2 linked regions of the Homo sapiens genome follow. The protein of the gene in region 1 purifies or fractionates together with the protein of each later gene. This does not show direct contact. Each region holds a gene or a part of one and is shown on either strand. Other genes may lie near its edges. The genes, in order: OR51V1 and ZMPSTE24.

Region 1 (3,182 bases):
AAAAAATAAGGATTCTAATTTAAATTAGACATGGTAGAAGTTGAATCCAAAGTCATATTTCTTTGTGTCCTCTTTATGAACTGTAGCTTCCCTGTCCAATATAGTGGCTGCTGAACTGAACTGTCCAATACAAGGACATTAAACATTTAAATATAAATTAACTTAAAGTAACTGAAATTGTAAATGCAGTTGTTCAATTACACTACCATCATTTCAAGCGCACAGGAGCCATATATTCCACTTTAGCCATTTTATGGTATTTTATAGAACATCGCCATCAGTTTAGAAAAGTTCCCTTGGACAATTCTGGTCCATACAGATATCACAACATTCCTGTGAGTTGGCTATAGTCTCCATTTTGAAGGTTAATTAAGTAAACCTCAGAGAATGAAAGAAACTTCAAGTTTTCTACTTTGAAACTTGAAAACCTAGGTTTTTAATCCAGCTTTGTTTTACAGCAAAGGAAATGCTCAAAAGTACATTTCAGGCAAATAAACAATTTTTTCCTCTTTCTTAAATATGGTCAGACTGATAGAGTGACCTACATGTGTCCAGGCTGACACAATGGAACTTGTTTGTTGATTCTCTGACTATATTTAAATATTTTTTAAGGTCATTTGTCATGGACTCAGAGTAAATCTACAATTTTAATAATTTTTTCTTTTTTATGGCACTGATTTTTGTTTATTATTGTTGCTGCTTTTCTTTCTTTTTTTTAGGCAATACATCTCAATATCTCTCAATATCTTTTCAGAGAAAAGAGTCTAAGCATTCTGGTATGAATCTGTTGGGTCTTGACACTGTAGATGATGGGATTCATTAAAGGTGGGAAAAGGATGTAGATGTTGCCAATGAGAACGTGGGCCACGGGGGAAAGGTGCTTGCCAAAACGGTGCACCATTGTGAGGCTAATGATAGGGATGTAGAACACAAGGACAGCACAGATGTGGGAGATGCAGGTCTGAAATAATTTATGCCTCTCTTCCTGAGAGGCAACTGCCAGGACTGACTTAAGAATCAGGATGTAGGAGAAAAGGATGAGTATAGCATCCAACAACAGTATGCAAATAACCAGCATCAGGGCATAGTAACTATTGAATCGGATGTCTGAACAGGCTAAGCGGAGAAGATCCTGGTGCAGGCAGAAAGAGTGAGAAAGGATGTGGAAATGACAGTAATTAAAAAATTTCAGACAGATGATGGGGGGTGTAATAAAGAAAAAACTCCTACCTATTATAGTGAGCCCAATTTTGATAATTCTGGAATTAGTCAGGATGGAGGAATAACGTAGTGGATTGCAAATTGCAATGTACCGGTCAAAGGCCATAGTGAGGAGGACAGAGGACTCCATGAAGGACAGACCATGGATGAAATAGGACTGGGCAATGCAGGAATCCAAGCTGATCTCTCGAATGATCCCCCACAGGATCCCCAGCACTGTGTACACAGTGGACAGCCCCATGCACAGGTCAGTGAGGGCCAGCATGGACAGGAAGTAAAACATAGGCTGGTGCAGGCTTGGCTCAGTCCATATCACATGGAGAACCATGCAATTGCCCAAAAGCACCATGGCATAGATTGAGGAGAAGGGGATGGAAAGCCAGGGGTATTGCTGCTCCATGCCAGAAAATCCAGTGAGAAGAAAGGAAGAATTCGTGCTGGTGCTAGGGCTTACTGAAGTAATCATTCTGGAACTGAGAAACATGTGAGAGTATTTTTTCAAAGGAAATGTTTCAATTTCACCTGAATACAATGAAATTTCTAAGTAAATGAAATACCCTAAAACTTACTGACTTAAAAAAAACAGCTGAGAAATTCTGTTTCTTTGAGACATAGTATCCATTGCCTTTGAGAAAATGGTCTTCTTTTGATGTCATTTAAAAGTCATTATTTTTTCACTGTCTGGATGTGAACATATCCTTAGAAGCCATAAGCAAAAACAAATAAGGAAGAGATTAGTAAAAGGAGAAGGCTAGTTTTAAAAAAATACGTTGCTTAGACATTTTCCCAAGGATAGTGGTAAAAATTTTATACCAGTAAAGAGCCGAGGTTCTTGAAAAATTATTTTCTTCTCTCCAATTCATTAAACATTCGAAGTGAAGAGTAATCTTTGGGCTTTAAATATCATAAGTCTATTAAATAGTCACTTTTCCGTCATTTTCCATTTTGTGCCGTCTCCAAGTATATTTTTTCTCCAAATACTATTTAATGAAGATACTCCTGTTTTCTCCCCCTCCAGATGACGTAGCCAGCAATTACTTTTTCTTCATTGGTGATAAGCAGACAGGAATATTTATGCATGAGACCTTGGGTAAATGATTTCTCACTGGAGCTCTGGCCTCTTGAGATGTTCAACTCATTTGTGCCTTTGTGATGTAGAGAATTAGATTGAAGACACTGAGCCTTTGATAGCAGCTCAGTGCTTCCCATTCCTTTATTTATTCAGTTAATGAGCTGATTAACTATTTATTCAATATACATTTATTCAATGTATTGGCCAATTGTGTTTTCTTTCTTAGAACCTGCAGTTCTACAGATCACAAAGCCAGGCTCAAACAAGCAAGCTTATAATTTCAAAAGCCTCATGGTAGCAGAATCAATTGGCTTCTTCTTTACATTGTTTGCCTGCTTTAAGTTCCAGACCTGAGAATCATCATAAGTTTTTTTAAAGCTCTAATAATGTAAACAGATGTTCAAAAGTCCATACTTTCATGTTTGATTGAGTAACTTCGAGATGTTAAAGTAACTTCAGATTTGGGCTGCCCTTTATGTCCTACTTTTCAGCTTTGTCTTATTAGCCTCACAACACAGTTCCACAGACTTTCTTCTCAATGTACTCTCTATACTACACTGACGTCTTCTAGCAGTCTAACCATTGTTTTTCTTGCCCTGACTCCTTCTCAGCATTGAATAACTTAGCTCACTATTTTTAATACTTTTTTCTCCATAGAATGCTTGAAGTTTCTTCGTTTCTTGCAGAGGATTTTTCAGTCTTTTGAATACGTATCTTCTTTCATTTCTCTAAATCGAATTTCTCTTCTTTCGTAAAATTTTTCTCGAAATGTTCTATCTGCCTAAATTATTCATCATCTTTTCCTCAATTTCTTCCTACCCTTTTTAAAACGATCTTGCAACTCAACAATCACTTTTCAAGAAGTTTCTTAAGACAAATTTATCCATAT
Region 2 (3,830 bases), on another chromosome or scaffold:
AGAACATTTGTATTCTTTATTATACCTGTTGATTGAAGCCATGTTTTTCTTCTATCACAAAAGTATTATAAAGACTCCATGGCAAACCAGTCAATGCACTGAAAAGTGTAGCCAACAGCAGAAACACCAGGGACTGAGTGATCTAAACAAAAGAAAAAACAAAAATCCAGTTTTTATGAACTACTGGCAAACAAATCAACAAGTATTTGCTGAGCACTTACTTACTACATCCCAAGCAATATGCTTGATTCTATGGATAACATAAGGTCTGAAATATCATCCCTGCCTTCAAAAAAGTTTACTTTTGAGAGAAGTAAATGAGAAACAAAACAATTCCTTTTTTATTACACAGGCACTATATGAAAGGTACCTTAAATCATACAGACAAATCCCTAAGATAAAGAGCCTGGATTCTTGGCTTACCACATGGAAGAAAGTCACCTGATAACTAAAAATACTCACACTGGACTATTACGTGATTGAGAAATAAACCATTGCAAATAAGCCTGTGATATTCTGGGATTTGTTATTGTAACTAATGTTATGCCAATACAGCATGGGTAACCAAGGACTATGCAAACAGAGAGGCAAATCTTAACATTGGCAGAAGCCAAAAAATTAACTTTAGTGGAAAGCCTGCCAAGCTAAAAGAAATACCATGACAAATACATGCTAATGAATCACATACCTCATATTCTGGTCCAAAGCCAGCATAACCACAGAACCGTCCAGAAAGTCTCCAGAGATAAGGTATTCCTCCAAAGAGAAGAATAAGCTATAAAACAAAGCATACTTTGATCACAGTTGAACAGTACTAGAAACTATCATATGAGAAAGCATGGTATAAAGAAAGAAAGGACAAAATAATCATCTCTATTAAAAAAACAAAAGAGGCCAGTACGGTGGCTCATGCCTGTAATCCCAGCACTTTGGGAGACTGAGACAGAAGCATCGCTTGAGGCCAGGAATTCAAGACCAGCCTGGGCAACAAGGTGAGTTGAGACCCCATCTCTACAAAAAATTTAAAAATTAGCTGGGCCTGATAGTGCGTACCTGTAGACCCAGCTACTTGGGGGACTGAGGTGACAGGATTGCCTGAGCCTGGGAAGTCAAGGCTCCAGTGAGCCGTGATTGTGACACTGCACTCCAGCAAGGCAATAAACTGAGACCCTGTCTCAAATAAAATAAAATAAAATAAAATAAAATAAAATAAAATAAAATAAAATAACAAAATAAAATATTTTTTTAAAAAATAGACCTATTTCACATTTAGCATAAATTATGCATTTAGATGAGTACTAACCATTGAGATACTAAATTTAGGTGGTTAATATAACATTTTTGTCTGTACACTATATATGGATGAATTGTATGGTATATGAATTGTATGGTACATGAATTATCTCAATAAAGCTGTTCTAAAACAAAACAAAAAAAAACCTTTTGTCAAAAGACCACAACAAAATCACAAACTAAACTTAGAAAGGTTAAACAGCTGGGTATGGTAGCATATGCCTGTAATCCCAGCACTTTGGGAGGCCAAGGCAGGCAGATTGCTTGTGCTCAGGAATTCGAGACCAGCCTGGACAACATGGTGAAACCTGTCCCTACAAGAAATACAAAAATGAGCCAATTATGGTGGCATGATTCTGTGGTCCCAGCTACTCGGGGGAGCTGAGGTAGAAGGATTGCTTGAGCCTGGGATGTCGAGGCTGCAGTGGGCCATGATCGTGCCTGCACTCCAGCCTGGGTGACAGAATGAGACCCTGTCTCAAAAAAAAAAAAAAAAAAAAAAAAAACTTGTTCGAAATCCAACAGCTAATGAGTGATAGAAATGGAATTTGAACCACATTAATATGGCTCCATAATTGTCTTTTCTGTGAAAGAAAATAGTCCTTTTCCATCAGAACAAAGCACAGAAGTGGAGAGTCATGTCCACTTACTAAACTGGGGAACAGAATGGGATTATCTGTGTCTTTGCTGGGTCAGGAAGAGGTGAGGTAGGGGCCCGGCTTTCACAGGAGAAGGCTCTTCCTCAGCACCACCCTTTGTCTTGGTCTTGGGCAGATAAAGTGAACACAGACATTCACTAAATAACCAGGACATTAGGAGCTAGGAAGCAGCTCAAAATTTGAGAAGAATGCATGTTTAAGAATTCTACCGCCCAAAACACATACAACTTTGTGGAACTCATTTGTCAAGAGGAATCAATTTATTTTTTCTCTCTGTAGGACAGCAGCTTAGGAACACAATGATCAATCACATTCCTTGACTAGAAGCACAATATTCCCACTGGTTCAGACATAGTTCCTCATGGTTTGAGGGGTTTTGGTACTATCATATTTCATGGGTACCCTTCCAATCTAATTCCCATTTTCATACATGTATCTACAAATAATATAGTGATTTATGTATGCTTTTAAAGAATGTATATAAATGACATCATATTATACTTATCAGTCTATGATTTGCTTTTTATATTCTAAATTTTCTTAGATCCATCCATGGTGGACTTCAACTTTATTTGGTATTATCAGGATATTTCCTAAAGTGTTTATAACAAATTACACTCCCATCAGCAGTACTCCAGTGTTTCTGTTTTCCCACAATCTCACCCACACTTTAAACTATCCATCTTTTAGACTGTTACCAGTACATTGGATTGGTTTAATATCATGGGTCTCAAATATGGTCTCTGGACAGCAGCAACAGCATCTGGGAATTTCTTAGAAATGCAAAGTCTCAGGCCCTACCCCAGATGTACCAAATCAGAAGCTGGAAGTGGGGCCCAGCAGTTTCTAGGTAAACCTGATGTACACTAAAGTTTGAAAATCATTGCTTTAATAAATTGTTTTCTTTTTTTAAGAGACAGAGTCTCACTCTGTCACTCAGGCTAGGGAGCAGTGTTATGATCATAGCTTACTGAATTTTTGAACTCCTGGGTTCAAAGGATCTTTCCATGTCAGCCCCCCAAGTAGCCAGGACTGTATGCACCACCATACTTGGCTAATTTTAATTTTTTGTACAGATGGGGTCTCACTATGTTGCCCAGGCTGGCCTCAAGCAGTCCTCTCACTGTGGCCTCCCAAAGTGCTGGGATTACAGGCATGAGCTACTGCACTCAGCCCCAATAAATTGCTTTTCAAAAGGCTCCCCTAACACTACCTCCAGGTATTTCCACTTTACTACAACTAATTCAATCTTAGACATAAACCTTGTTTTCCCAAAAGACATGCTTTGGTACCACTGTCTGACATATGCTGTAGTTGTTGATCTAATTGACCTGGGATGGTATTTCTTTCAGCCAATTCCCAATACTAATAAATAATGTATAATTAAGGACTTATAATGCTTTTAGTAAAGGCCACAGCAACTATTATTAAAAGTCCAGTATTTAAATAAGCATCAAGGGTAGTTTTAATATGAATTCTGAATGATCTATAAATGCATTTGAAAACTGATACTGCAAACCTTTTGGGGACTGAAAAACAAAGCATGTTTAGTTTCTTTTGGGGACTGAAAAACAAAGCATGGTGAACTGTACAATGTCTCTATGTTGACAATTTCACTAAGCATGCTCCCAGGGTTGTTCTATGGCAAAATTAATGATCCCAGAAAAAATAATTCCAGCGCTTTGACATATATTATTTCACTACATTCTTTTTTTTTTTTTTTTTTTTTTTGAGACAGGATCTCACTCTGTCACCAGGCGGGGGTACAGCAGTGTGATCACAGCTCACTGCAGCCTCCATCTCCTGGGCTCCAGCAACCCTCCCACCTCAGCCTCCAAGTAGCTAGAACTGCAGGTGCACATCACCACACTCAGTTGA

Evidence for each region.
Region 2: the proteins of OR51V1 (region 1) and ZMPSTE24 purify together in Homo sapiens (affinity purification with mass spectrometry; one large-scale study listed by BioGRID and IntAct). This does not show direct contact.

What each region holds. Positions count from the first base shown.
Region 1 is NC_000011.10:5,198,996-5,202,177, forward strand, and holds OR51V1 (olfactory receptor 51V1), read right to left. Parts: upstream 1,688-3,182; coding exon 740-1,687; downstream 1-739. UniProt on the Homo sapiens protein: Odorant receptor.
Region 2 is NC_000001.11:40,264,731-40,268,560, reverse strand, and holds part of ZMPSTE24 (CAAX prenyl protease 1 homolog), read right to left. Parts: intron 776-3,830; coding exon 689-775; intron 143-688; coding exon 26-142; intron 1-25. UniProt on the Homo sapiens protein: Transmembrane metalloprotease whose catalytic activity is critical for processing lamin A/LMNA on the inner nuclear membrane and clearing clogged translocons on the endoplasmic reticulum.